6 separate regions of the Homo sapiens genome follow, and regions 1, 2, 3, 4 and 5 are each reported to be linked to region 6. Evidence: microRNA targets listed by miRTarBase, many of them from high-throughput screens and not tested one by one. Region 6 holds a microRNA gene; each other region holds the end of a gene's coding sequence.

Region 1 (5,041 bases), not on the chromosome of region 6:
ATTAGAACCTGTGGTATTTTGCTATGCCATCTTGCTTATGTAGTTTGTATGATTTTATAGGTTAGATTTGTAAAGTATATTCATCTGAGTCTAGCAGGTGGAGTAATTTGTTATTTTTTGTTTCTTTCAGCTCTGTGTTCTCGTTTTGCCCAAGACCTTTGGCTAGAGCAGAACATAAAAGATTCTTTCCAAAAAGTGACACTGAGCAGATATGGAAAATATGGACATAAGAATTTACAGTTAAGAAAAGGCTGTAAAAGTGTGGATGAGTGTAAGGGACACCAAGGAGGTTTTAATGGACTTAACCAATGTTTGAAAATTACCACAAGCAAAATATTTCAATGTAATAAATATGTAAAAGTCATGCATAAATTTTCAAATTCAAATAGACACAAGATAAGACATACTGAAAATAAACATTTCAGATGTAAAGAATGTGACAAATCACTTTGCATGCTTTCACGCCTAACTCAACATAAAAAAATTCATACTAGAGAGAATTTCTACAAATGTGAAGAGTGTGGAAAAACCTTTAACTGGTCCACAAACCTTTCTAAACCTAAGAAAATTCATACTGGAGAAAAACCCTACAAATGTGAAGTATGTGGAAAAGCCTTTCACCAATCCTCAATCCTTACTAAACATAAGATAATTCGTACTGGAGAAAAACCCTATAAATGTGCACACTGTGGCAAAGCCTTTAAACAGTCCTCACACCTTACTAGACATAAGATAATTCATACTGAAGAGAAACCCTACAAATGTGAACAATGTGGCAAGGTCTTTAAGCAGTCCCCAACCCTTACTAAACATCAGATAATTTATACTGGAGAGGAACCATACAAATGTGAGGAATGTGGCAAAGCTTTTAACCTATCTTAACAACTTACTGAACATAAGAAAATTTACACTAGAGAGAAAGCCTACAAATGTGAAGAATGTGGCAAAGCCTTTAACCAGTTTTCAACCCTTATTACACATAAGATAATTCATAGCGGAGAGAAACCCCACAAATGTGAAGAATGTGGCAGAGCTTTTAACCAGTCCGCAAAGCTCACTGAACATAAGTTAATTCATACTGGAGAAAAACCCTACAAATGTAAAGAATGTGGAAAAGCTTTTCACCGATACTCAATCCTTAGTACACATAAGAAAATTCATACTGGGGAGAAACCCCACAAATGTGGAGAATGCGGAAAAGCCTTTAACTGGTCCTCAACTCTTATTACACATAAGATAATTCACAGTGGAGAAAAACCCTACAAATGTGAAGAATGTGGCAAAGCTTTTAACCAGTCCTCACACCTTATGAGACATAAGAAAATTCATAGTAAAGAGAAACCCTACAAATGTGAACAGTGTGGCAAGGTCTTTAAGAAGTCCTCAACTCTTACTGCACATAAGATCATTCATACTGGAGAGAAACCTTACAAATGTGAGGAATGTGGCAAAGGTTTTAGCCAACTCTCAAACCTTACTAAACACAAGAAGATTCATACTAGAGAGAAACCCTACAAATGTGAAGAATGTGGCATATCTTTTAACCAGTTCTCACAACTTGCTATACATAAGATGATTCACACTTGAATGAAACCCTACAAATGTGAACGATGTGGCAGTTGTTTTAACTAGTTCTCGAACTTTACTATGCATAAGAAAATTCAAACTGGAGAGAAACTCTACAAATGTGAAGAATGTGGCAAAGCTTTTAACCAAGTCTCAACACTTACTATACATAAGATAATTTATACTGGAGCAAAACCTTGGAAATTCAAAGAATGTGGTAAAACTTACAATCCTCAAAACTTCTTACACCTAAAATTCATGCAGGAGAGAAACACCACAAATGTGAAAAATTTGGTAAATTCTTTAACAAGTCTTCAACCCTTTCTGCACATAATATAATTCATACTGGAGAGAAACCCCACAAATATGAAGAATGTGGTAATGCTTTTAACCAATTCTCAAATCTTACTAAACAAAATTAATACTGAAAATGTTACAAACCAGAAAAATGTGAAAATGATTTTAACAAAACCTTCAAATTTTTCTAAACATAAAGGAAATCATACTGGTAAGAAATTATAAAAATGTGAAGAATGTGACAAAGCCTTTAAATGGTTGTCACACTTGATTGTAGGTAAGATAATTCATACTGGCAGAAACTCCCAGAAGTGTGAAGAATATGGCAAAACTTTAATTCCTATACCTTATTGCACAGGAAAGCATTTATACTTCAGAAAATGTTGTACTGATATAAAGAATGTAGAAAAGCCATTAATATGTGCTTACATCTTATTCAACATTAGAGAGTTAGTACTTAATAAAAGCATTATAAATGCAATTACTGTCAAAACTCAGCATAAGGTTTTGTTTTAGTGTGTGGTTTGTTTGTTTGTTTGTTTTGTTTTGTTTTTTTTAAATGAGACTACGTAATACTCTCTCCCAGGCTGGAGTGCACTGGTGCAATCTTGGTTTACCGTAACCTCTGCCTTCCAGGTTCAAGCAATTCTCCTGCCTGGGCCTCCAGAATAGCTGGGACTACAGGCATGTACCATCACGCCCGGCTAAGTTTTGTATTTTTTAGTAGAGACAGGATTTTACTGTGTTGGCCAGGCTCATCTCGAACTCCTGACTTGAAATGATCCATACACCTCTGCCTCCCAAAGTGCTGGAATAACAGGTGTGAGCCACTGTTCCCAGCCAATATAAGCCTTTAAAGTAAAAAAAGAGTTTTTATTTTGAAGACAAACATTAGAAACATAAAGAGGGTTGTAGTGCCTGCCTTACTTGTATCACAGATCTTATTGTACACATTTTGTATCCGAAGCAGTTGCTCAAACTTCGTTCAACATCAGGGAATTTATATCGGAGAAAAACTACAAATGTAATACATTTCAAAAATTTTTCAAAAACTACATCTTAGAAAACACCAGGGGATGCATACTAAACTATATTTTTCCACATGCAGTAAATATAAAAAAAATCAAAAATAAGGCTACGTAAGTATCAGAGAATTCACAGTAAAAATATCTAAGGCACTGACACTTCAAACATTGCACTAAGTAAATGTGCTGAGTATATAAAATAACCCAAAACTAAAGTGGGTAGATAAATTATTTGTACATAACTTTAAAAGAAGTAGAAATATTTTTGCAGAGTTACAATTACATTCAAAGTATACTTTTTTCCTTGAAAAAAATTGCAGAATTTATGAAAAGTGAATAATGTAATTCAACTCAAATTACTTCATGCTCTTCATTCCTATTGCATTCACTAGTGAAAGCATGTGATCAATTGTTGCTGCATCAAAGGTATGAGAGATTCTTTTTTGTTATGTCAATATTGTTTTTGAATTTTTCTATGGAAGAGTAAAGACATTACAATGTAGGATGCATGACAAAAGTCTAAGTGGAGAGGCTCTTTGTGTTTAATTTATAATATTGAGTGATGTATGAGGTAAGTGTTCAGAGTAGTATTCTGCGTTATACTCCAAACAAAATAATTTTAGTTAAAATTAATTAGTATATAATTTTACTAATTGTACTTTTATGTAATAAAATGCAGTACAGTTTGAAAGGCAATGGAAGGGCACCGTGGATCAATAAGGCCAAGAGGCGAGACAAAGAGGGCAAAAATCTTTATTGAGCTCTCGGGCGAGGTTCACTGGTCCACAGGGGGAGGGCCAGGGAAGTCGCACTGTGCCAAAGGTGCAGCGCGCTTTTATGGATGCTGGGTGAGGAGTGGGCAGGGTAGGGGCGGGGTCGGTTGAGTTTCACACTTCTGAGTGTGACACGCCCTAGTGGGCATGCGCGTTAGTCGGGGTGACGGGAACAGGAAAGGTGAACCCGGAAATGCTGAGTCGGGGTATCTGAGGTGGTGATCGCCATCTTGGAGTCTTCACTGGAGTCCAATCAGTCCAGCCTATTTTTGGTTATAGAAAAGGGGCGACGAAATCATCTGGCTACTTCCTGCTGTTAAGGGGTGTCACTGGGGAGAGGGCCTAAATCAGAGGTTGGCAGTTGGACGTAGGGGTGAAGTAACATCTGGTTGAAAGTGACCCTGGTGATTTCTTGTATCCGCTGGCGGAGAAACTGTACTAGGATTGGGGCAAAACACATTATTATACAGAGAATTATAATTGGGATAAGGAAAGGGAGCATCTGTTGAACCACAGGTGAAAACCACCAAGAAGGACCAGGGTGGAGAGGGTCCTAGGAATGTTTTAACTCCTCTTGGATCTTTTTTTTTTAAAGTTTGTAAATTGGTCTCAACTACCCCTGACACGTTGAGATAATAGCAGCATTCTTCCTGTAAGAATAAACATGTCCCTCCTTTTTCTGCTGTAAGCAAGTCTAAGGCCCGCCTGTTCTGTGCTGCGACCTGTGCTACCGAAGTGATCTGTCGCTGTAGGGAGGCCAGGGACTCGGCCGATGCCTCAATGGCCAACTGCAGGCGAGTAGACAGATCTTGAGATGTTTGGATTGAGTGGGTGAGGGCTCCTTTTCCTAGCCCTGATGCCACTAAGGAGGAGGCTAAGGAGATGCCTAGTACTAAGGGTAGGAAAATAGCCCGTTTGCTTTTATTTTGCAGCCTTGGCTCGGTCCAGGCTAGCAGATGGCTAAGTTCGTCCTGACTATATAGGGTCAGGCTAGGGATGAGAGAGACGAGTAAGCACAAGGTGTGATTACCAGTTGAGTTAAGAACTTTAGTTAGTGTGGAGTTACACCAGAAGTAGCCTCCGGGTGGTGCCAGGGCGCTGGTAAGCATCCTGGTCTGGTTACACCAAGAGGCATTTGGGGTAGAGTAACAGAACGGGAACTTGTGTCTTGTAGGGTCTGAGAATAGTGGGACCTGTCCTTTTGGGACCGGTGGTATAGGGGTGGATGAATTTCTTGTATAATTAAAGGGGGTAGGGAGAGGAACTGCTACTAAGGGAGGTCTTCCGAGGGCTGCACAGAGGAAGCAGTGGGAGAGGTTTTGTACCCCTGTGGATTGGAGCAATTGTGCACCTTCTGAAATTAAAAACCACGAGAAGGGG
Region 2 (5,041 bases), not on the chromosome of region 6:
CCTGTCCCTCCTAAGGATCATGGTGGTATCTTCTCTCGAGATGCACCCACTCATCTACCCTCTGTGGATCTTTCGAACCCCTTCACAAAGGAGGCAGCCCTGGCCCATGCTGCCCCACCCCCTCCTCCTGGAGAGCACAGTGGAATTCCTTTCCCTACCCCACCTCCTCCTCCCCCTCCTGGGGAACATAGCAGCAGTGGTGGGAGTGGTGTCCCCTTTTCTACTCCACCCCCTCCTCCACCCCCTGTTGACCACTCTGGAGTTGTACCCTTCCCAGCCCCACCACTGGCAGAGCACGGAGTGGCAGGGGCTGTGGCAGTATTTCCCAAGGACCATAGTTCCCTCCTTCAAGGGACCCTGGCTGAGCATTTTGGGGTACTCCCAGGACCCAGGGACCACGGGGGCCCCACCCAACGGGACCTCAACGGCCCTGGCCTTAGCCGTGTACGAGAGAGCCTCACCCTACCCTCCCATTCTCTGGAACACCTGGGCCCACCCCATGGAGGAGGAGGTGGGGGAGGCAGCAACAGCAGCAGTGGCCCCCCCTTGGGTCCCTCACACAGAGACACCATCAGCCGGAGTGGTATAATCTTACGGAGTCCCCGGCCAGACTTTCGGCCTAGGGAACCTTTTCTCAGCAGAGACCCATTTCACAGTTTAAAGAGACCCAGGCCACCTTTTGCTAGGGGCCCTCCGTTCTTTGCACCAAAACGCCCATTCTTCCCTCCCAGGTACTGATGGAAACCAAGGGAAAGGCATTTTGAACAGTCTAGAGAACATTGGAAGTAGGAGTTTGGTTTATTGTTGTTGTTTTTATTTGTTTTCTCTTTCTCGATTTTTTTTTTATTATAACAAAGGGCCTCTCTTCCAAAGTAAGAAATCACATACGCTTACGTTTTACTATTCAATTCAATCCTCCCTCCCATTGCACTTATCTACCTTCCCCAAGTTGTTTGTATTAAAAAAAAAAAAAAAAAAAAAAAGTAAAGAAACACAACCAAAGCCATTTCATTTGGCTGGGGGGTTGGGGAGTGGGGAGGAAAACAATCTTTATTTTACCCCATCTATTGAAGAGTATTATTACATTTGAAATAAAACTTCCATCAGTACAGATAACCACATGTGCAATGTTGGGATGTTATTTTGGGCTTGGCTTATCGAGTAGTCAATGGAAGGATTCCCGTCCCCTCTCTCGGCAGCTTAGTAACTGCTGTAGCCAGCTCGGCTCCCTTCCCTGTGTATCTGTGTCCTGCTAACAGCCAAGAGATGTTGCAAGGGAGGAAATGTGAGAGACCTTGAACCTGTCAGGTTTATTTGTTTTGTTTTTAAAGGCATGTTGAAGTTTAGTTCTTTACCCTTCTCCTAAAATCTTTTTTTAATCAGCCTCAAGGTTAAAATAAGGAGTGACTACAGTATGTAAAATAAGGAAAGGAAGCATTAATGGTGTGATGTGACCTGCCTGTTTTTTTGTAAACAAGAGAATAGGAAATGTTTTCAAGGTAGTTTCACATGTCTTGCACCAAGCTCATGCCTCTTGCTTTTCCTTTTTGACTTTATCTCCCTCAGTTTTTCTTCTGCTGTGGCCAGAAAGACAGTCACTACAGTTGACTATTGATACAAAGGTGCAACAGAAATATTATCCCTGCATTTTTAAATATAAGAAGTAGACATTAATTTTACCATGGTGCCTCCCTAATGTAAGTGATATTTATTGGTGGTTTTCAACAAAGGTTAACTATTAAAGAAAGAAATATTTGTCTTTATCTTCCTTTTCCCCTTGCCTCAGTCGTGTTATTCACCCCTATTCTTGATATTTTAAAGGAGGAGATTCAGTAGCATTTTCCTTTATATTATACACATGTGTCTATCCCATTTCAAGGCTCAAGTCTTACCCCCACCTCTCGCTCCCAATAGGAAATAAAGACCATTTCTGCCCTTAGTTGTTTTACATGCAAGATAAGTGCTTTCCTTCTCCCTGGACTGAAAGACTTGTTTGTATTTCTACATCTAGTACTTGGGAAATAGACAATCACTGTACTTTGAGTGTTTATATCTTTATATCTAGGGACACTGAAAAGTAAATGTTGCTTTACTACAATTTTTTTTTAATTTAGTGTCTTACCCCAAGGCATACTCAACTGATAATCTCCAGCTAGATGAGTAAAACAGTATGTGTTTAGTTTTCCAGAGAATTCTGGCAAGTTTCATATTTTCTTCCAAGTTAGTATAGAACTAACTATAGGAAGTATGGGGTTGCTTTTTCCTCCAGTAGAATATTAAAGATGGGGGAGGGTGGGCAATGTAGTGACAGAAAATGATTCTCTCAGAATGAACTTTTCAGAGAAAGAGCAGCATAAACCAGGTGCACATCATGATTTGGGAGTTTTTGCGTAATTTATTCTGTTATTTATTTGGGCTCGCCATGTGTTCTGGGGTTAGGATGCTGCAGGTCATTCATCTTCTTAATGCCTGTCTGGTCTTAAGCCAACTGTTCTTTCTTTCCTCGACCCTCTCTGCCCTGTAGCTCTCCCCACAAAAATGCATGATACCATGACCTTACGTGTGGGATGGGGTATGTAGTGTAGCAAAGAAAAGAAAGTATAGTTATATTGAGTCCTAAGACATTTGTTAGGGAAAAGCATAAGAGAAAATGGGGTGGGAGGTGGGGAAATGATATTTGACTTTCAAAATTGAAATAGGTTTTTTTTTTGCAGAAATTAAATGGGATGTTTTTCATTCTAGAATAAAAGAATGTGAATTCTCTTTGCTGCTCTTGTTTAAGCTAAAAGTAGTGTTTACTTGATAAGGCTCTCTGACCATTTAATTTTTATCAGAAAATGTGGGGATGTCAGGAAAGTGGCTTCCTGAACGTTGGGGCGGGATAATTGTCCTCAAAAGTATGATGGTTAATACATGAAAGGAAGACTTTGTTGGACAGTTTCGAAGGTGGGCTTTTAAGGAGTTGGGTTTTTGTGGGGTACTTTTTTGTTTTTTAAGCCACAAAATCCTCAATATGTTTGTTTTAGGATGGAAGTGAGGATTTGTATGAGACTGTCAGCTATTAATTTTAAGGAAATCTTAAAATTTACATTTACATCAGTAAATGAAGATGACAGTGTGTATATATGTGATAAATAGTGAAACAGAAAAGACAGTTCTGGTATTCATAACGTGAAAGAAAGGGGTTTTATTCTTTCTGTGTCTGTGATTTAAAACTCCGTGACCATGCTCTGACTTTTGTATTTCAACCTGAGTTTAAACAAATAAACAAGATATTTTTTAAAGAAAGCATAACATAGTGTGTCTTAGCAAGGACATGATTCATATGGAAGCAGAATGTGAGAAGTTGTAAGGTCCTTGGTACTCACTGTAAAATCACAGACAGAGAATTGGTAGGGGTTGTGAATACACTAGTACCACTTAAAGTTCAGTGATACAGTTCAGAAATAGGGTCCTTAAGTATTTTGAAAGAGTTTACTCTTCAGTCAGCTTAGATGAGAGCTCTCTCCCTGCTCCCCTCTACCCTCTCAAAAGTTGAGAGTAAATAGAATTTGGTTTGATTCCAGGGAGGGGAAAATAAGCAGAGAATAGGACTTTTATACTTTCCAATACCAGGAATAAAATGTTTGTGATATATATGGGTCCAGCAAACCTATCGAGATAATGTGAATACGATAAACTTCCTAATGGCAGGATATTCACTCTCAATCCTGAAGTTACCGGTTCCTGCAGAATTGAGCTTCAGCTGTTACTGTTTTGAAGCCGCTGTAAATTACTGCTTTCCCCAGTTCCCCCACTATTTTTTTTAAGTGGGCGGGGGCGCCTGTTAAGATCTAAAATAGATATGTTGGATTGATATTCTCACGTGTTCGGTGTGGAAAACAAAACAAGTACATGCTTTAGAAGCAACAACAATGAAATCCTTTTGAAATGTGTGTTAATATCGTTTAATAAAATAACTAGTTTGAAAGGTTTGACATTTTTCTTTGAGACGGGCTTGGACCAGGGGCCCCTGGCTTCCTAGTGAGTGCAAATAGGAGGGAACTTCTCAGGAGCTGAAACCGCTGCTTTGTGGAGCAGGCCTGTGGTTGGAAAACCTAAGTTTTCTCTAGCAAAGACCCAGCCTGACTGTCCAGGGCCGAAGGTGAAACCAACTAGAGAATGCAGAAGGAAAAGCCTGGATATATCTCAGAAGATATGGTTGTATTGGCTTTTGGTCCAAGGGTATGGGGGTGGGAGTAGTGGTGTGTGCGCCCACACATTTCTCAGGCACACACAGAGATACCACAGACCACCCACTTCGTAACCACTTGCACTTTACTCTCTTCCAGACGTTCCTTTTTTTTTTAATCCCTTTGTCCCCATTATTTTGTTTTCCAGTTTAATAAAGTATGGTTTCCTTTGTTGTGTGGTTGACTTTTCCCCTCCTGTTGATCTTTTCCAGATGTCCCCTTTGACTTCTGCACTTAATGTCACTGAAGGCAATCTGAGCCTCTTAAGATCTTTATGGCCTTGTGGGTTTTCTGTTTGATCCTTTGTGTAATTGAATTTTGGAAAGGGATAATGGGTCGGGTGAGTTCTAGATGTTCAGGGAGTGGTTGGTGAAGTGGGATATACTGTATTAATAATTTTTTGTGCATGTCTTCAAAAGGTTGTGCAACTGTGAGCCAAGAAGCATTTTTAAAGCAAGCATAGAATTGGGGGTTTGGGGTGGTAGCAGGGATCCTTCTGGCCAATTATTTGCCCACATCTGCCCTTACTGCATATTGGCAATCTGTTGTGCAGAAGCCACACTTAACCCTTCTGTCTTACCCCATCCCTTGTTCATAACCCAGTGAGGCTGGGTTGGAATGCTGGCTGTAAGGGGTAAAGAGGGATAGTCACTGCATCTGGGCCAGGCCTGGGTCACTGGCAGGGTAGAAGGCTCTAAATAGCAGCCTTGCTTATGTGAAGGTACGTACATGTGTCACCAGACACTTAAATAGCAGTGGCCTGGGAACACACCCAGCAGGTAGGGTGTACCACTGTACTGGAATCTGGC
Region 3 (5,041 bases), not on the chromosome of region 6:
GAACAACCTGCCTCTGATCATGTAAAAAAGAATGATTTAACCTGGAACCGGAGCCAAAAATAGAGCTTTAAAGGCAATCAGGGATGTCCTATATCTTTAGAAATAGCACTGTGATGGCTTGATCTCCTTTTCAATACAAAACAAAGCCAAGCTGTTTACAAGGGTCAAAAGCAATTATTTAAAAATTTATATTAAAAAACCATAATCTTCTCTTGTTACCTGTGGACCAAGAAAAAAAAAAAGATAAAAAAACTTCTTTACTAAGAACCACATGTTCATTCAAATATCTTGAAATGCCAGCCAGTACTGGACAGTGAATGTCAACCACCGCAGAGTCTGAGGCTCATTTCCACTAGAGAAAACGAAACCCAAGATACCTTTCCCTTTTGTCAATGTAACAGGGCATTAGCCAGACTCATGTCTAATGTTATAAGCTTTTAGCCGAGATGGCCTTGTTGCGACTTCCCTGAAGTCAGTTTTATCAGAGGAAATAAATGAAAGACAGAATGATTAACATATATAGTGTATAAAAGTATAGAAGAGTAATCTCTTCCCTGTGGCTTTATTTGGTGGTGTTACTGTTGTTTATTCTTTGTTTATATGGGAGATTCAAAGTAAAGCCTATTTAATAATACCATTTATCTAACTGCTGATTTTCTGCTGCTTGATCTTATTAAGCGCAAGACCTGTCATTAGTAATTTCTTTTCTGTATTTTAATTTGCTATGTTTGCACGTACATTACATTTGTTTTGATGTCTATTTTTATTTAACAGATTCAGTCAAAAGGTAATGATAACAGAAACCCTTTCCATTGTCAATAAAAAAAATAATAATTCCAGTTCTCTGTTTAAGCTTTGTTTTCTAGTCACATAAGGCTCGACAATTTACTTAAACTATCAGGAAATGTGTTCTTTGGGTGACCCAAATATTTAGCTTCAAAATTGAGTCTGCCACAAGAGGGAGATCTAAACTTGCTTATGGGAGTGATCTTAAAATTTTTTTCTAAAAATGTGGCCTGAGTAGGAACAATGAGAAGTAGCTTTCTAAGCTCATCTAAACATGGGCATCTTGATTCATAGAAATGAAATAGAATATAGGAACTACGACATTATAATGCCATAACTAGATTTGTATCTACTATTATATAACACTCAATCACTAAAATCAATTTCTTTCTTTTAAAGATCAAGTTAGAAAGATTAATCATCTATAATAGACACTAACATATAGTGATGCAAAAGATCCAGGTATTTCCCTCAAAAAAGAAGCATAAAATATGTTTTAATTTATAAGAAAGATAACTTCTACTAGATTCTAAAATCCATTTAATGGATTAAGCTCAGAGTCTCAACACGTTACTTTTGATCATCAACATTATAAATTTTCACATTTTTAATGTTCAGGACCTTTCAAATACAATTTTATATAAACAAAACTGGTTTTTAAATGTAGGATAGGTCTCATTTAAATATGTTTAATATATTTTCACAAGCAAAGTAATTCAATGAATTGGAAAATACTATAACTTCTGAAAGCACTTTATATTTTCATTTTCCAATAACTTAACAGTAAGAAATCCTATGAAAATACCAAACGAAGACCTCACAGAATTTATTCTAGCAAGTTTAAGTATGTCTGCATTTTTTAGTAATATTATATTGTTGTTTTTAAAGATACATTTAATTCAGAATCTTTAAAGTACTATCTAGCAAAAGTGATTTATGGTTAGTAGTAAAATAGAATTTTTTCCTCCCAAATTTTAAGCAGTCTGATGATTCAGGTATATCTTTCTTGCCCTATTTTTTCATCACATAAAAGTAACAACATTCTTTGATCTTGCAATTCCCCAGTGAGACACAGGAAATAGCCACTTCCCCAGTCTCCAGCACTGTTTTCCATTCCCATCCTAGTGGAAAATAACCCAAGTCTGCTTGCTGAGATGTCGCTTCAGATTTGATTACCAGAAAAAATGTGCAAGAGGACCAAAGATGCAACCTTTACCTAATTATTGGATCTGCCTGAGCTTAAACCTTGCAAATGAACAATGATACACATTCAGGTAAATAATTTGCCATTTCAAATTAACTGACTCTTATTTGAAAAAAAATAAGGAAACACATTCTACTCCTAAGACATTAAAATGAGTTATTAATGAAGACCACAGTTGTGACAATGGATAAAACGTACCAATGAAAGAGGCAACTCAAGGATCCCAACAGCTTCAAATGAGAGAGTGTCTATGTAGCTGGTTTAATTCAGTCTACTAACATAATTAAAAGGAAAAAGTAGATGAATATATTTTTCCAGGTGTAACAATCAAGAAGGCAATTTAAGTAAATAGGAATTTACTTTGAGAAGCCATTTATTTTGCAGTCTTCAGTCCAAAAAAAGTCAACATTTTCAGAATTTTTTTATATAAGTTGTAGGTCATTTTTATAACAATAAACTTTCTATTATCTATTTATCTCTCACATACATTTCATGTATCCTGAGTATTATGTTACAACAATCTGCTCTTGATAGTAATGTTCCTGATAGATTAAAAGATTGAGAAATACTTGAAGAACGATCAAAGATACAATGAGCATGGTATACTTTTGGGTTAAAATGTATTCTTTGATAACTGATGTCATATAGATCCCTAAGTAAATCAAATATTTAATTTCCTACATCTGTCTACCTTAGTTAACTGGCCCATTCCTATAAGCTTAACAAAAACTCACTTTACAATTATTTAAAAAAAACATTTAAGAGATTTTTAGAAGTTAAATGGAAAGATACTTTTGGACATTACAATATTTTTAATGAGTTATTATTTTAAAATTAGAGATTTCACATAAAAACCAGGATTCTTTGTTTTCTCTTTAAAAAAACAGAGGCTCTTGCAACAGGAGACCTGCCTCCTTTTTGGGCCATATTCTGCTGGGTCCGCTGCTCCTTGAGGTATAGCAGGTGATCTGCAGTCTTCACCATTTTCTACTGTCCTTTGTCCCTCAAACCTAGTGGCTTAAGTTCACTTCAAAATCACCTAGACATTACACTACCTGCCTAGAAACCTTCTTGTCTTTAACCTAATGTGAAAACCTTGATGTTTCTCTCTTAAGAGTTTTCCTTGCCACCCTACCCCATTTGTACATCGATTCCTTGTTTCCACAGGAATCTGGAATCATTTGGATAAACATAGTCAACTAAGAACCTGAGACATGAAGAGGGGCTCCCAGGAGCCCTCATCTCCATGAAGAGATTGGACTAAATGATCTCTTTGTTCTCCGCCAGGCATGTGGTTTTTTTGTTGTTTTTGTTGTTTTGAGATGGAGTCTTACTCTGTCACCCAGGCTGGAGTACAGTGGGGGAACTTGGCTCACTGCAACCTCTGCCTCTTGTATTCAAGTGATTCTCCTTGCCTCAGCCTCCCGCCACCACGCCTGGCTTATTTTTGTATTTTCAGTAGCTACAGGGTTTCACCATGTTGGCCAGGCTCGTCTCAAACTGCTGACCTCAAGTGATCCGCCTGCCTCAGCCTCCCAAAGTGCTCGGATTACATGCTGAACCAGGTCAGACATGTGGTTTTCCTTGCCTAAGTAACAAAAGACCTGAAGGTATAGCTATAACCCCGGTGTTCTGCTTTCCCTCAGAAAATGTATAGAAAAGCCCTCCTACCTAGATAATAATTTCATCTGTCTAGATGATTACCTAAACTTCCCATTTCATCTATTTTATTTAAAACAATGTGAGCATCTAAAGAATACTAGAAAATATCTAAAATTTCTACAAGAAAAATTTTAATTATTTTCTGACTTTAAGTTTTAGATTTTGGATCAAAACTACAGATTCTTGGTTTCAGGAAGTGGCTCTATATTAGTGTTGCTTTCAATTAAAGTGTTCTTCTTGGGAGGTACAATTTTAAAAATAATACACTAGATACGTTTTTCCTAAAGCAGTAGATGACATTCAATAAGCCATGTTATAGATAACTAATAACAATGCTAACAGGGTCAAACCAAAAAAAAGGCACAGGTCTTTCACATGTTTTCATTAGATTTGTTTAGGCCAAGTTTTACAATTCACATTTCATTTTGCAAGTAATTTCTACTGAAATATTTATTTCTGAGAAACAACTCAAATAATTTAATTTCAATTAAGAAATTAAATCAACTCAAAATAGGAATAAGACAAACTCATTATGCTTGCTTCAGCATTTCTTCTACGTGGCCAAAAATGCTGGGGTCTTCAATTGTAGAAGTTATCTGGAAAAAAAATTAGGGTCAGGTGAATACTCTTCCTTGAATTTCTTCTACTCTTTCTATAATTAAACAATTATATGCAATGTTGTTTTCCCCATTGTCTTGTAATATTCATATGGAAAGTTTAAAAATAGGGAACTTTGAACCTAATATATTAATACTCATCTGTAGCTTTCCAGAGTAAAAAAATAAACAGTTCAGTTAGCAAAACTATTGGACCTAGATGGTATTTTCTCTAGAGTTGGAGTTCCTCTTAAGAGTCTTCTATATATTTCTGTAGAAAGAATGTTTCTTTTTTGTCACTTGTTCACATAACTACTCCTTACTGTTGCATTGCCTTTTATTATCTTAATGATAAAAATAGGTATATCTTTGCACACATAATGTACACACAAATTAAAACATATGATTGAATCAGCCTAAGATTTCCTAAAATAATTACAAAATTAGCATTTATCAGTTAGAGCATTTTAAACATCTACTGCCGCTAGCCTCAATTATTTTGCTTTCTCATTCACTAATTGCCATTAATTACTATAATAAGGAAAATGTACCTTTTAATTCAATAGGATTAAGTTTCCACAAATTTGTTTGAATTTAACTGACAATTACTAAGAGAAAAAATATTTTGGCAGGCAGCAGTGGCTCAGGCGTGTAATCCCAGCACTTTGGGAGGTTGAGGCAATCAAATCGCTTGAGCCCAGGAATTCAAGACCACCCTGGGCAACATGGTGAGAACACTACCTCTATAAATACAAAAGAAAAAAATTAGCCAGGCACAGTTGCATGCACCTGT
Region 4 (4,000 bases), not on the chromosome of region 6:
GACTAAAGAGAGGCAAGAAAAGCAAATTCAGAATTGTAGAGCAGCTCCTAAGAGCTGAAATTTGGTAACAGAGGGAAAATGAAAGGTGGTAAGATTTCCATTAGCAAATGATTAAATCTTAATTAAATGAGTATTGGAAAGCTCCTAGACTGCATAAGCTATTGGAGACACTTAAAACATTCATATACACTGGGGAAACCATTCACTATGATATGTAACGTTAAGAAAAAAAATTTTTTTGAACTCCATGGAAAATGGTGTTTAAAGAGGGGAGGAGGGGAAGTTAGTCATTGTATCCAGTCCCACCACAAGACTGAGAAAGCATGCACAGGGCTCAGGGTTTTGAGAAAGGGGACAGAATTGGTTAAAATTGAAAATGGAGGATCATCGCTAACATTTAGTCTCTGTAGAATTTTGTTTAAGAATACTACCAAAAAGGTCATGATCATGAGTGCTATCTCGATAGAATCCCATCATTTAAACAGAGTGTAAATTCCTTCCACTCAAATATTCAATCTATACAATTGGATTAAGTAATCAGTATGAACAAAGCTCCTAGAAGTCTGTGTCGATCTTTAGCTCTCACCATGAATGTACATGGTACATTGTGATGGCTGTTACTAAACTAATCGTGTATTTATGGAACTAGCAAAATTAGGTTAGTCACACAGGCAGGAAAGGTGTCTGGAAGGACAGGAGCAACCTGTAATGCGAATATTGGTTTTCTTGGTATACTCAGGCTCTGTGGTCATATTGAGAACAACGGATGGAGAAAGGTACTGATAGATTTCATAGGAAAAAGAGCCAGCTGACTAGTGACAGTTTTTACATATTTTTCCCATTAAATCCCATAGCAAAAAAAAAAAAAAAAAAAAAGAGAGAGAGAGAGAGAAAGTGAGGAGGGTGGAGTGGTTATAACTGAAGACTGGCTATAATTCTCCTACAATGTTTATAGTTTTTAAAGCAAAATAATGTTCAGGTTAAATACATTTAATTGTGAAATTGGAAAATAACTTGCATCTTCTGTCAAAGAAAAATCAACCAGAGGTCTGGATTTGGCAAGAAGGCTAAAAATCTGGTTTTCTTCCCACGCATTATGTAGACCAATTCAACTTAAGAGCTAACCATTAAATAATTATCTTGAGTATCTTAGGTTGTGTTATAAAATAAATTTGAAGTAGATGAGTTTATACTCAATGAAATTCATTGGCGTCACAATGACTTTTCCATCATGTGTTAATTTCTTGTACCCTTAATATGTTATTTTCCAAGGACTTGAAAGAAATGGGGTAATAAATAAAAGCTGCATTTCTAGAGAAGCCTAACAAAAATAGAATATTAATTTTCTTTAAAAAATTAAACATTTGAAAAATGTAATTCACAGCATTAAGTAGACTGCATAGGTCCTCAGTGAAAGGACCCTGAAGAAGCATTTTTTTAAACCCTCATCATAGTTAGCAGTGCAAAACATAGACTTATCAGACAAAAATCAACTAAAATGTTAATTTTGAAATAAATAACTAACATAGAAAATAAAATGAGGTCATTGTTCTCTACTCCGTAGATCTTAGAGTCTGCAGGAAATGTAATGTGACAGAGCACAGCACAGTTGTCACGGAGAAGTTTGCCTCATCTGAACACTGGGTGCATTGATCTGCAACTTGAAACTTGATGTCAGTGTTAATCATGATCTGGCTTCCCAGGTTCACAGTTCAATGATGACAATGATGGAAATTTTCTCTAAACTCTACATGAACCGTAGGAGTTGAGAATTCATTTGTTTTCAATGTACTATTTCTTTTATTTTTTTTTTCCAGAAAAGAAAATCCCAAAGCAAATTTGTGCTAGGGTTCTTTGAACTTGGCTCTTTTACCTCATGGTTGAAGATCTTGAAAGAAGTATGTAGGATACCACTGGGTGATGTACTTGTCAAGGCCCTGAAAAGTAGCCTACCATGCCATTCTCCCCCACTCTCAAGTAGCACTTTTATGTTATGGGAATCAAGGGGTGGGAGGTATCATTATTCCTGGTAGTTATGGGTTTTTAATAAATATCATTACTGCAATATCAGACTTCAATCTTGCCAGAACTTCAAAAAACATTATTCAATTTTTGTCTTACGAAACACTTAAAAAAAAAGACTATCACTTGAGAATTTTCTTTGCAATTTCCTGTAAATGAAAACATTTGTTAAAAAGTTCATCTATGAAAAGTTCTCACATATCTTAAAAAAAAAATTCTTCTGTACACTTGTTCCCATAATTATGTTGAAATTAATGGAAAATTTAAAAAGCCAATGTAAGACAAAGGAAGGTAAATACTGTACACTTGCTGAGAACCTCTTCCACCATAAGATTCACTGTTTTCCCAGTTCTGATCATAGAAGCCATTTCAGTCTTGAACTTGCAGTAGTAAAGAAGCTGTGAAAGGCACAACTTGTTTGACTGAGAGGCCACAGGTGCACTGAAGTGGGATTCAACACGCATGACTCAGCATCAAACTGTTGGACCAATCAGATCAGCTTCTAGTACCCCCACACACGCTCACCCACGTGTTCCTTTAAGTATCTATAATCCTATATGGATGTTTTATAAACTTGCTGTCTCACATTAAAAAATAAGTGCATCAAGTATCTTTGTACATTCAAGTCACTTCCTAAGGCAAATTGTCTACCATATGTACTCCCAACTGCTTTGGTATTTGCTTCAGTTAATTGGGGTGGACTTGGGTGTTGCTGCATGCAGGTTAATCGACTCAGAGTGGACTAAGTGGGTGGACAAATGCTGGGAGCATGCCTTAGATCAATCTACTTGTGTGTTTAGAGTCTGAGAGTTCTGAATGGGGCCCAAACCACTTGCATGGCCAGTCTACACTCACTACATTATGTCAGTGTGCAGCCTTCAAACTGAAGGAGCTTAATTAAGATGTGAAAATATCACATGCCCTCATAACAAGTGTTGTTCTTTTTACTTTCTTCTAGCCAACTTGTTTTAGAAAATTAAGACTCTTTTTGATGACTCAGACTGACAAAAATGGAAAACTTTGCCTATGTAGACTAAAGAATGCCTACTGCCTGAGAAAATGCAGACCTAATTGTTGGTTTATTTTCTCCTCCTTACCCCACCCTGCTCTCTCTTTTTCTCTCTGGGTATCTCACCAGAACTCTCTGTCATTACATCTCCTTCTCTTGCATTCCTTTTCTTTCTCATTCTTTCTCTCTCTCTCTCCTGCGTTATCTTTGTGCTCTCACTCTCTCTCACTCTCTCCCGCGCTCTCTCTCTCTCTAAGACAAATGCCTCTACCTAGCAGAAGTCAGTTGGGTTGGCTAGTGCATGGTTTCCAAATGTTCAGCAGAGATGAACTGGGGTAGGTAATTTTGCAGGAATTTGAACCCTATTGTGGAAATACTGTTATTTCCCTTAGCAATCAGCAAAAACTGAGAAATTTAGTGACTTGCATCACCATGACACAGTATAGCATTTGGCAGGTAATTGTTCAGCGACTTAACTAGATGAATTGACTTTTTAGAAAAGGTGATTTCAAATTGAAGAATTTCTGGAAACAAAGTTCAGATCCTGTGGTGTGGCTGGCCTTGGTTTTTACAGTTCAATCTTGCATGCAGGGAAGGATTCATCTTGCATAACCACTGTGCTGCTGCTTGCTAAAACCATGATGTTGAGATCTTGCTGTTTCTCATGGGTCTCCTGGTACCATTCCCTCATCACTTCTGAGTCATGAGTTGGGATCAGTGTCACCTGCAGGGAGAGAAAAAAAAAATAGCTATTTAAGGGCAGAAACAGAAACCATATGAAAAAAATTGAATAGCAAGGTATTAGACCACTGGAAGAAGAAGGGAAATGAGAGAAAACTTTTCTATTTTCCTCAAGAAATGCAAAGGATTTTTCAATGTATATTTTCCAGGAACCAGAATAAAGCTGCAAAGAAAAGCTATTGTTTCTAAGGGAAACTGAAGGCTGGAACCAAAAAGCAATTAATCAGT
Region 5 (5,041 bases), not on the chromosome of region 6:
GGAGCACCCTAGGTGGATGAATTAGCATACAAGTCTCTCTGGTCTGTGCCAAAGCTTTGGGGCCTTGCTAAATTTAGAAATTTGAGGCCAGGTGCAGTGGCTCACACCTGTAATCCCAGCACTTTGAGAGGCTGAGGTGAGCAGCTCACCTGAGGTCGAGAGTTGGAGACCAGCCTGACCAACATGGAGAAACCCCGTCTCTACTAAAAAATACAAAATTAGCCGGGTGTGGTGGCGCATGCCTGTAATCCCACCTACTCGGGAGGCTGAGGCAGGAGAATCACTTGAACCCAGGAGGCGGAGACTGCAGTGAGCCGAGATCACGCCATTGCACTCCAGCCTGGGTAACAAGAGCAAAACTCCGTCTCAAAAAAAAAGAAAGAAATTTGAAAGCAGCCAGCAACATCAAGGCACAGATGGAGCTTGAGCTACCCTCTTCAGGCTATTCAGAAAATTCTCCCAAGGGGAAGTTGGGAAGGAGAACTTCTATTTGGCCCCAGCCTAAACTCTCCTGGAAGCTCGATGGGGCCTCTGTCAGCTTTCCCCTCTGGACCTGCCCATTTGTCCCAGAGGTGCCCACTGAGGCTACCTCAATGCCTGTCAAACTAAAACTTAAACCTAAGAGTGTCTGCAGCATGGTCTCCAGCCAGCCTGATCAGAAGACTATGGAGGGGGCCAGGCACGTGGCTCACACCTGTAGTCCCTGTAATGCTAGCACTTTGGGAGGCTGAGGTGGGTGGATCACCTGAGGTCAGGAGTTCAAGACCAGCCTGGCCAACATGGTGAAACCCCATCTCTACTAAAAATACAAAAATTAGCTGGGCGTGGTGGTGGGCACCTGTAATCCCAGCTACTCGGGAGGCTGAGGCAGGAGGATCACTTGAACCTGGGAGGCAGAGGTTGCAGTGAGCCAAGATCCCACCACGGCACTCCAGCCTGGGTGACAGAGTGAAACTGTCTCAGAAAAAAAAAAAAGAAAAAAGAAGGAGGGGCATACTGACTCCTCACTGAAGAATGGGATAGACACCCTCTATTCTACCTCTCCCAGCAAGGCCATAAGTCTTTGCTCTGAAAGGAGCCAGACTTTAGAGCCGGCTACAGGTGGACATGGGGTGAAGACATCAGGTTGCGAGGGTACCCTCTCTCGTTCCCTAGGAGCCTGGCCCCTGCAAGGAGGGGCACCTTTAAACAATCAAGCATAGTGAGTGGGGCGGCAAGCAGAGCAGAGACACAGACGACAGCGGGGTGGAGCCCCACCAGTCCCTCTGAGTATAAGGCAGAGGGAGTCCCGCTGGGGTCCACATCCCTGTGTGTCTCGGGCTGATTTGGACACAAGGCTCACACATTCATCCTACCTGCCCCAGTGCTAGCTGGCCGAGGATGCCAGGCTGTACCCGACCTTAGGCTGTGCGGCTTGGAACCTGGACCGGGGCAGGAATTGACAGGTTCCCCCAAACAATGTCACTCCCAGGACCCTAAGACCTCAAGCAGCAGAAACCACAATTCTGGATGTTACGTGCAGCGCCAGCTCCTGTCTGCCCTGCCTCCTTATCCCTTTCTCCCAGGGCGACTTTGGACCAGGTCTCGAGGCCGGGAGACCGGCCCCAGCCCGCCCGACCGGGATGGGCCTGGCGCCCGGGGGAGGCCGCGTCGTGCTGAGACAGCTCCGAGCTGCCTCCCCGCAGCCGCGGGCCGCTACAATACGGATTCGGCGGCGAGAGGAAACAGTCTGGCCCTCCAGGGGACGCAGGGAAATCCAACCTTTGGGTCGGGGGCAATTAGGACTGGGAGTCGATACCGCGGGCAACGAATGATGAATGAATAAATGAAAGGATGAACAGAGTGGCGAGGCGGAGATGGGCCATGCGGGGCGTCCCGAGGAGGGTGCCCTTCCTTGCCCCGATGCTGCCGGGACCGTCCCTCATCCCCCAGGTCGCAGCAGACTCAGCCAAGACACCCGGTCCTAGTGCGAACACCTCGCGGGCCCCGGGAGACGCCTGGGCGCGCGGTGCAGCTCTGGCCCGGAGCCCGCATTCCGGCGGCCGGGAAGTGCCTGCCCCGTGGGCAGAACGCGCCGAGTTGCCGCGGCCCCAGGAGCCGTCCTGCCCCGCGCGGCAGCAGCCCCTCGCGGCGGCCTCCGGAACCCCCGAGACCGGCCCCCGGGCCGCAACCCCTTACCCGCCCTCCTCGGTGGCCTCGCTCCGGCTTAAAGCGGTCATCCCGGCGCCTGCACCCAGCGCCCCGACCGCGCGCCGGGACCCAGCGCCCGCCGGACCCCGCCCGCCCCGTCGAGAGCCCGCCCCGCCCGCCCGCCCATTGGCGGGTCGCGCGGGCCGGGCACAGCCCATTGGCCGTTCCTCCCCCTCATTCCCCAGCTTCCCCAGCTTCTCTCCTTCCCCACCTTCCCCAGGTGGGGCTCCAAGCTCTGAGCAGATCCTAGCGCTCGGTTCCCCGGACTGGGAGGTCCCGGAGGCCAGGGCCTGGCGCGGCACCTCCTGTCCCTCACGTCGAGGGTATTGTGTCCCCTCTGGACGCTTCTGTCGTCCTAGTCTTGCGGCTTGGGTCCCTCTGCAGGAACCAATTCCGGCCCCTCTCCAACCTAACCCTTCCCAACATAGAGCTCCGGATAAGTTTCAATTTTACCGTCAGTGGGGAACACCAAAGGGGATATTGAACACCATGGTCTGACAGCCAAGTCACCACCACGAACCCGGGAGCCAGGATGCTCCCACGCACTTTTGCCGGAGTTAACATTGCAGTTTCTCCAAGGAAATACACTTTTGGAGGAGTCTGCAAAGGGGCTGAAGGTGGACACAAATCAAAGGCAGGGAAGCAGAGGCACGTGCGCTCAGTGTGACAATGAGCTTTTGCCTGGCCTGCAGGCCCTTTCCTCTTCCATCCCCACCAGGACACTTGGTCCTTGGGAGTGTGGTCAGGGGAGAGGAAAAGCGCAGGCCAGATTTGGTCCCATTCCCAACTCTCTCCCCCAGCCCTTTGGCACTACAGCATCATGGTGGGAGGGCACCAGCAAACAGGAGGGGTCCCAAGGGGAGCCTAGGTCCACAACTGAGGACCTGGGAGCCAAACCCAGTCTCAGGCGCCCAGAGCTGACTCCTCCTACAGCCCCCATAAGGGATACGCTAATGCAGGAAGACCAAAGTGGAAGAACCATGGCCAAGGCCACTTTGCAATTTGGGTTTATCTACCAGAGTGGGAGGGAGGCCTTGTCCCTGCTCTTTCCCATCTTCGGTTCACGTAAGCCATTAAAGTCTCCCCGCAGCACTGAAGGGGGCAACCTGTAACCCTAAGATAGTAAGCTACTGCTTTCCCAGCGCCTCTGCACCAGGAGGTGGGCAGGATGGCAGGTGACACCACCATAGCTCCCACTGCGGGGCACGAGGCTGCAGCCATTCCCAGCCTGCTCAGAGGGCAGGGTTCAACCACCTCCCCCTCCCCAGCAGAAAAGAGAGGAAACAGGTGCTTCAGCTGTTGTTTATTGACATACAGGTAGGCTCTATAGCAACAGGCCTGGAGGTGCTGCAGTAGTGGGGGAAAATGGAAGGTGGAGGGTGGAGTGTTTGCTGCAGGACAGCTGAGTGGAGGGTGGGGACAGGTGCAAACTGGAGAGGCCTAGAGAGCTAGAGAAGCAAGTAAGGGCCAGGGCCAGAGTCGGCTTCAATGGAACAACAGCCCAGTGCCCTAAGGCCCCTAACTCTTGCTGGCTGTTTCTTGACCCCAAGCCAGGGTTGGGAGTCCTCTGGGCATCCATTTTTTCTAAAGGAACTGGACAGAGTACACACAGGAAAGGAAGCTGTCACCCTCTTGCCATCTGGCTCCAGGGGCCTCCAGTCCAGCATTCCTCCTTCTTCCCTTGATTGGGTGGGGCCACATGATGGGCAGCCAGGCTCTGGGCTGTCCCACTAGAGCAGGCTGCAAACACAGCCATGTTTCAGTGAGGCGTTGATCTTCTTCCCTGGTGTCCCAACCTACCAGTGCCACGTTACAGCCCAGAGTGAGTTCTACAAGCGTTGCTGGCCTAATGGATGGGCTGGGGGAAGGGGGTGGGACAGGGGCTGGAGGAGGGGCTCTGGGGTCCATCACGGCACAGGAACAACACGCATGGTGTTGGTGAAGCCGGAGCCAGGGCGCCATCCGGTCAGCACAATGACCACATCTCCCTTCTTGAAGAAGCCTCGGGCCTTGCCTGGAGGAAGAGAAGGGAGGTTGGTGAGTAAAAGCCAAGCCAGGCAGGTTTGCACCTGGGCAGCTGCCCCATAGCCTGAGTACTGAACTAGGCTGGCTGACCACTACTTCCTCACACCACAAGGTGGCACCAAACTCACAGCCCAGGCAAACAGGAGGAAGGCCCTGAAATGTCCTTATCACTCAGATGGCAGGGTTGGCAGGGACCTTTGGACATCATTCACTATCCTGGAGAGGGTGCAAAGCCTTGCCCAGGGTCAGAGCTAGCTGCTTCCTGTCATCTGATGATACCCTACCTTATACAGGGACAATGGCCACATCAGTACGTAATCTGTGTATGCCACCCCACAGCACAGGAGCTGTGGCCAATTTTATTTAAAAAAAAAACAAAAAACAAAAAAAACTCTCAGTAATGAGCAGATGCCAAAAAATGGACAATTTTGCTTTGAGCCCCAGACTAGAAGAGAAGAGGAACTGAATTGCTCAGCCCTACAACTCAAAGGACCCTTTTCCCTCCTGGCTCAGCTTAGGACTTCGGAGAATGAGAGATTCAGAATGAACATTCCCAATAAGGGAGAGGAACAGTCGCTGGGCCTTTTGCCCCACTAAGGTCTGTGTGTTCCCCTTTCTATTCCCCAAACTTTCGGGGTCCCACAGAAGCCAATGCTCAAGCATCCCCAAGCTCCTCTAGGCTCTAGCCCCTGCTCCAGCCACGTACCAACATTCATGGCAAAGTTCACCCGGAGGTCCACGTCCTCAGCCCAGGCCTCCTGGACTGGGTCCTTGCACAGCACAGGGAAGATGCCACGGTACAGGTGGGCCTGACGAGCTGTCTGGG
Region 6 (4,947 bases):
TCGTGTGAACTGGGGAGGTGGAGGTTGCAGTGAGCCGAGATCGAGCCATTGCACTCCAGCCCGGGTGACAGTGCGAGACTCCATCTCAAAAAAAAAAAAACAAAAAAAAAAAAACAGAGTCCTAACTCTTCCCTGCCCTGAGAACCCCCTCAAGGCAGGGAGGATCAGCTATTCCCAGCGCCTCAGGACTAAGCACACCTGCTTGTGTCCCTTCTGGGTCCACAAGGAACTTGTTCCATGCCCCACATGTGGGGCGGGTGTCACTGCTCCTCCCGGCAAGTTAGAAAGCTGCAGGGCCCAGCAAGAAGGGGCCAGGTCAGGTCAACCCAGCCTGATACCGGAAGCCAGGAGTTGGCATTTAACGGTCTGGAGGCCCAAGGCAGCTTCCTCTTGGGTAACTGGCTGCTAGGAAGGTGCGGGCCGGGCCAGTGCCCCTGCCAGGCTTGGGAGAGGAGGGGCCAAGCCTCCAGGCCCGGAAAGGACACAGCTGGCTTCCCTTTTAATGGAAGGGCCACCCACTCACCCACCTATCTATGCTGGCACCACAGCCCAGCCTGAGCTGTGGCCATGCAGGGGTCCCCAGTTGCAGAGTTGGGGATCAGGGCCTGCAGCACACATTTGGGCCCAGCCAACCCCACCCACCACATCCCTCCTCCAGACACAGGTCTGATTCTGAGTCCTCATCTCTGCTCCAAGCATCAGCCCACCCAGGGAAGGCAGGGGCTGCAGGCTCCAAGGGGGCTTGACCCCTGTTCCTGCTGAACTGAGCCAGTGTACACAAACCAACTGTGTTTCAGCTCAGTAGGCACGGGAGGCAGAGCCCAGGGAGGCCAGGCAGCAGGATGGCAGGCAGACAGGCGGCAGCAGGGGACAGGCGGCAAGGCCAGAGGAGGTGAGGGCCTGGGGGGCGGAACTTAGCCACTGTGAACACGACTTGGTGTGGACCCTGCTCACAAGCAGCTAAGCCCTGCTCCTCAGGCCAGGCACAGGCTTCGGGGCCTCTCTGCCACCCCGTCCCCGGGCAGCATCCTCGGTGGCAGAGCTCAGGGTCGGTTGGAAATCCCTGGCAATGTGATTTGTGACAGGAAGCAAATCCCATCCCCAGGAACCCCAGCCGGCCGTGGCACAGGGGTGAGGGGGGCACCGGGCGGGGCCAGAGGCTGGCACCTGGAGGGGAGAAAGAGAGAGAGAGCAAAGGAGGTAATGAGATTTGGGGACACCTCCCCTCCAGGTCCCCAGATGCTTCCTTTGATCACAGGGAAGCTCTTTTCTCATATGCAGGAGCCACCACACGGGGAGCTGGAGCCTAGCTGTGCCCTCCGTTCCAGCCCCAGGACTGGAGAGGCAGAGATACCTAGAGGGCCCATGCGGGACAAGGAGGCTACAGCAACTTGCATGGCCAAGCTCCCCCCTCATTGAGCCCTGGGCAGGCCAAATGGGGCCATGGGGAGAGGAAGCCAAGGGGGGCCAGGCAGGCGGGTGAGGAAGTGATCTCACCCCAGCTGGCGCCACTTCCTAGAAGCCTGGAGGGCAGGAGGAAACCACCAGGGCCTCCCCCCCCGTGGCCCGGTCTCCTCAGTGGCCAGGGCTTAGCCCACACCCACCAGGGCGGATGCCGGCAGCAAGGCACCCCCCTCTCTTTCTAGACACGCACCCCCCGCCCCCCAGAGCACAGGATCCAAGCTCCAAGATACAGGCCTCTCCACCCAAACAGCCCAAGGTTCAAATCCTTGCTCCACAGTTTCCCAAAGACTCTCCAAAGCTTCAGTTTCCCCATCTGTAAAATGGAGCCAAGAGCCTCTTTTGCATAGCCCAGTGAGATGTCACCGAGTATGTATGTCACTCAGTAAGTGCCCAGCACCAGGGCAAGATACAGGATTTTCAGGACCCGGTGCAAAATGAACACGTGGTCCTCTAGTTCGAAAACTAAGAATTTCAGGCCAAGCATGGCGGCTCACGCCTGTAATCCCAGCACTTTGGGAGGCCGAGGCAGGAGAGTCACCTGAGGCCAGGAGTTCAAGACCAGCCTGCGCAATACGACAATACCCCATCTCTACAAAAAAAAAAAATATTTTTTCTTTTTTGAGACAGGGTCTCACTCTGTCGCCACGGCTAGAGTGCAGGGGTGCAATCACAGCTCACTGCAGCCTCAGCCTCCCAGGTTCAAGTGATCCTCCCACCTTAGCCTCCGGGGTAGCTGGGACTACAGCTATGCACCACCATGCCCGGCTAATTTTTTCTTTTTCTTTTCTTTTTTTTTTTTTTTGAGACAGAGTCTCGCCCTGTCGCCCAGGCTGGAGTGCAATGGCGTGATCTCGGTTCACTGCAACCTCCACCTCCAGAGTTCAAGCAATTCTCCTGCTTCAGCCTCCCGAGTAGCTGGGATTACAGGTGCCCGCCACCACGCCCAGTTAAGTTTTGTATTTTTAGTAGAGACGGGGTTTCACCATGTTGGCCAGGCTGGTCTCGACCTCCTGACCTCAGGTGATCCGCCCACCTCGGCTTTCCAAAGTGCTGGGATTACAGGCGTGAGCCACCACACCTGGCCCTAATTTTTGTAGAGATGGGGTTTTGCCATGTTGCCCAGACTGGTCTCCAACTCCTGGGCTCAAGCAATCCGCCTGCCTCAGCCTCCCAAAGTGCTGGGCTTACAGGCCTGAGCCACAGTGTCTGGCCCACAAAAAATTCACTAAAAAATCAGCCAGGAGTGGTGGTACACATCTGTAGCCCCAGCTACTCAGGCGGCTGAGGTGGGAGGACTGCTTGAGCCCAGGAGTTTGAGGCTGCCGTGATCTATGACCATGCCACTGAACTCCAGCCTAAGTGACAGAGCAAGACCCTATCTCTAAAATAAACAAAAACAAGTTTAAAAAAAGAAAATAATTTCAGGCTGAGCGCGGTGGCTCATCCCTATAATCCCGGCACTTCGGGAGGCCAAGACAGGAAGATCGCTTGGGGCCAGGAGTTCGAGACCAGCCTGGGCAATACAAGACAAAAAAATTAATAATAATAAAAAAAAATTCATGACCCCAGCAGTGCAACATTAAACTAACCTCCAGGTCCCTCCAAGCAGGGCTGCCGTGAGACTGCCCGTTTCACAAATGCATGAAGCCAGCCCTAAGTCTTTAGTGAGTGGAGCTTCTTTTGATAAGAGCCCAACACCTGGCTAGCAGACTCCAGTTTTGGAGCCCAAGTCTGCCCAGATTTGAAAGCCCCAGCTCTGCAGCTTCTGAGCTGGGTGACTCTGGGCAAGTCACTCAACCTCTCTGGGCCTCAGCTTCCCCATCTGCAAAACAGGGATAATAAGTATGGACTTCATAAGTCATGGTGAGGACCCCATGAGTGATAAACATGATCACGACAGAGCTGCTGCTGTCTTTGCCAAGGCAAAGGATAACGGAAACGTGGGTGTCTCACACCAGGACCCCAGTGTCCGCCCGATGTGGTGGCGCTCACCACTTCGAGACAGGCGGCGAGTGATGTCCTGTTTTGTCCCCTCCCTATACACACATACACACATACCAGCCACTCTTTCCCATCAGGCCCCAGCCCAGCCCTGTCCCCTTAGGGTCTGGAGGCGCCAACTGGGAGCAGGCGAGGCCCCGCAGGGCGGCCAGCCTCCCTGGGCCGCCTCCGGAAGTGAGACAGCACATTCGTGTCCCAGGGACGAGAACGGGAAGGGCGGCCATTTGGCCAGGCTCGTTTCCTGTGGGGTTTCCCCTGCACAGAGCCCAGGGCCGGGGCCAAGGCCACTCCCCATCCCCGCAGGCACAAAAGGTCTGGGTCTTGAGTGGAAGGGGTGCTGCCATGCAGGTGCCCAGGAGACAGGGTCCCCTTTACCAATCATGGTGCACTTCTCAGGCTCTTGGGAGATGGTGTCCAGGGGGAAACCAAGCTCCTAGCAGCTGGAGGCATGAGGGAGAGGGCGGGCCCCTGGGCTGGGGAGCAAAGCAGGCCCCAGGCTGCATCAGGACACCCCGGCCAGCCAATGCATGTGGGTATGCCTGAATACCCCCTCCAGACAGCGTGTGCGTGGACCAGACACACAAGGGTATGTATGTGTACCGCTACCCCCCCAACCCCATGCTCCAAGAATGAATCAGGGGCAGCTTCCGCCGGGGGCGCCACCACCACCTCCGCCCCCAAGCCTGGTCCCCAAATACTTTCCACCCTCACAGAGCAGCTGGGATCGGAAAATACCAAGGGCTGCAGGCCCCGCCCTGCCCGCCGCGCCACCCGCCCTCCCAGCCTGTCACTAACGCTTTGCCTAATGGGCCCAGACTCTCAGCAGAAGCTCCGTGGGCTGGGCCTCGAGCCAGCCGCCAACCTGGGCTGCCCGGCCAAGCGCCGCCTGACCAGGAGCCCCCCGCCCCTCTGCCCCAATCCCAGTGCAGCGACAATAACAACCGCCCCGATGGGCAGCCCTCAGAGGGTGGCACTGGGTAGGGAAAGTCAGGGCACTGACAAGTGGGTGGGCCCCGCTGCCCACCCAGGGCTGGGGTGGGGGGAGGCTCAGGAAGGGGTGAGTAAGTGAGGGCTGAATCACTTGTTATAAATAGGGGAACCATGAAAGTGACATCCCAGCCCCCATTGCGTCCCGCCAGTCCACACTCTAACCCCCACTTAGACTTTAATCTTTCCCAGACCAATCACAGAATTCCCAGGGGCCCCCTCACCTTCATGTTGGGAACCCTTAGTAGAGTGGTACACCCCGTCATCAGGTCCACCCCTGCCTTCTCCCCACATAGGTACATTTTGCAGTGAGGGCCTGGCTGTGGGGGTCCCCTGGCCTTGAATGCAGTCACTGGTGTCTGCGCCCTATCCACCTCCCTCAACGCACCGATTCCCAGGCCCAAGGCTCAGGGCCTCTAGGCTCTCCAAGGCATTCTCAGGGTGTGGGCCACCACAGTCCTGGAGGGTGACCCCAGAACCTAGGCCAGGCGGGAG

Evidence for each region. The annotated mature microRNA hsa-miR-23a-3p reads AUCACAUUGCCAGGGAUUUCC and lies in region 6 at 1,056-1,076, opposite strand. An mRNA with a match to its seed (bases 2 to 7 or 8) in the 3' UTR can be bound and repressed. Matches are read on the target gene's strand: a 7mer-m8 pairs with bases 2 to 8, a 7mer-A1 pairs with bases 2 to 7 and ends in A, and an 8mer does both.
Region 1: miRTarBase lists ZNF138 as a target of hsa-miR-23a-3p. Seed matches in the 3' UTR shown: 8mer at 929-936, 8mer at 1,013-1,020, 8mer at 1,265-1,272, 8mer at 1,349-1,356, 7mer-m8 at 1,433-1,439, 8mer at 1,517-1,524 and 6 more.
Region 2: miRTarBase lists RPRD2 as a target of hsa-miR-23a-3p. Seed matches in the 3' UTR shown: 7mer-m8 at 1,283-1,289, 8mer at 2,751-2,758, 7mer-m8 at 3,336-3,342 and 8mer at 3,663-3,670.
Region 3: miRTarBase lists ACSS3 as a target of hsa-miR-23a-3p. Seed matches in the 3' UTR shown: 8mer at 4,065-4,072, 7mer-A1 at 4,023-4,029, 7mer-A1 at 2,833-2,839 and 8mer at 1,385-1,392.
Region 4: miRTarBase lists MAP1B as a target of hsa-miR-23a-3p. Seed matches in the 3' UTR shown: 7mer-m8 at 2,605-2,611.
Region 5: miRTarBase lists PKM as a target of hsa-miR-23a-3p. The part of its 3' UTR that is shown has no 7-base or 8-base seed match.

What each region holds. Positions count from the first base shown.
Region 1 is chr7:64,831,321-64,836,361 of GRCh38, forward strand. ZNF138 (zinc finger protein 138) reads left to right here. Exons shown (of 4, transcript NM_001271639.2): 4 at 131-2,360. The coding sequence ends at 882. Among named protein-coding and RNA genes, the nearest start is that of ZNF138, 39 kb to the left of the region's middle.
Region 2 is chr1:150,472,597-150,477,637 of GRCh38, forward strand. It overlaps RPRD2 (regulation of nuclear pre-mRNA domain containing 2), which reads left to right. Exons shown (of 11, transcript NM_015203.5): 11 at 1-3,970. The coding sequence ends at 738. Among named protein-coding and RNA genes, the nearest start is that of TARS2, 12 kb to the right of the region's middle. RefSeq lists an enhancer at 1-400.
Region 3 is chr12:81,254,064-81,259,104 of GRCh38, reverse strand. ACSS3 (acyl-CoA synthetase short chain family member 3) reads right to left here. Exons shown (of 16, transcript NM_024560.4): 16 at 1-4,248. The coding sequence ends at 4,183. PPFIA2 (PPFI scaffold protein A2) reads left to right here. Exons shown (of 33, transcript NM_003625.5): 33 at 1-1,130. Among named protein-coding and RNA genes, the nearest start is that of PPFIA2-AS1, 23 kb to the left of the region's middle.
Region 4 is chr5:72,204,839-72,208,838 of GRCh38, reverse strand. It overlaps MAP1B (microtubule associated protein 1B), which reads right to left. Exons shown (of 7, transcript NM_005909.5): 7 at 1-3,755. The coding sequence ends at 3,600. Among named protein-coding and RNA genes, the nearest start is that of MIR4803, 37 kb to the right of the region's middle.
Region 5 is chr15:72,195,553-72,200,593 of GRCh38, forward strand. It overlaps PKM (pyruvate kinase M1/2), which reads right to left. Exons shown (of 11, transcript NM_002654.6): 10 at 4,922-5,041; 11 at 3,477-4,204. The coding sequence ends at 4,098. It overlaps GRAMD2A (GRAM domain containing 2A), which reads right to left and starts at 2,235. Exons shown (of 12, transcript NM_001012642.3): 1 at 2,179-2,235. The coding sequence starts at 2,219. RefSeq lists an enhancer at 1,673-1,852 and a silencer at 1,963-2,382.
Region 6 is chr19:13,835,540-13,840,486 of GRCh38, forward strand. It overlaps MIR23A (microRNA 23a), which reads right to left and starts at 1,120; the gene lies at 1,048-1,120. MIR23AHG (miR-23a/27a/24-2 cluster host gene) reads right to left here. Exons shown (of 1, transcript NR_036515.2): 1 at 1-4,947. MIR24-2 (microRNA 24-2) reads right to left here and starts at 820; the gene lies at 748-820. MIR27A (microRNA 27a) reads right to left here and starts at 978; the gene lies at 901-978. RefSeq lists enhancers at 3,053-3,162, 3,193-3,412, 3,633-3,732 and a silencer at 4,153-4,382.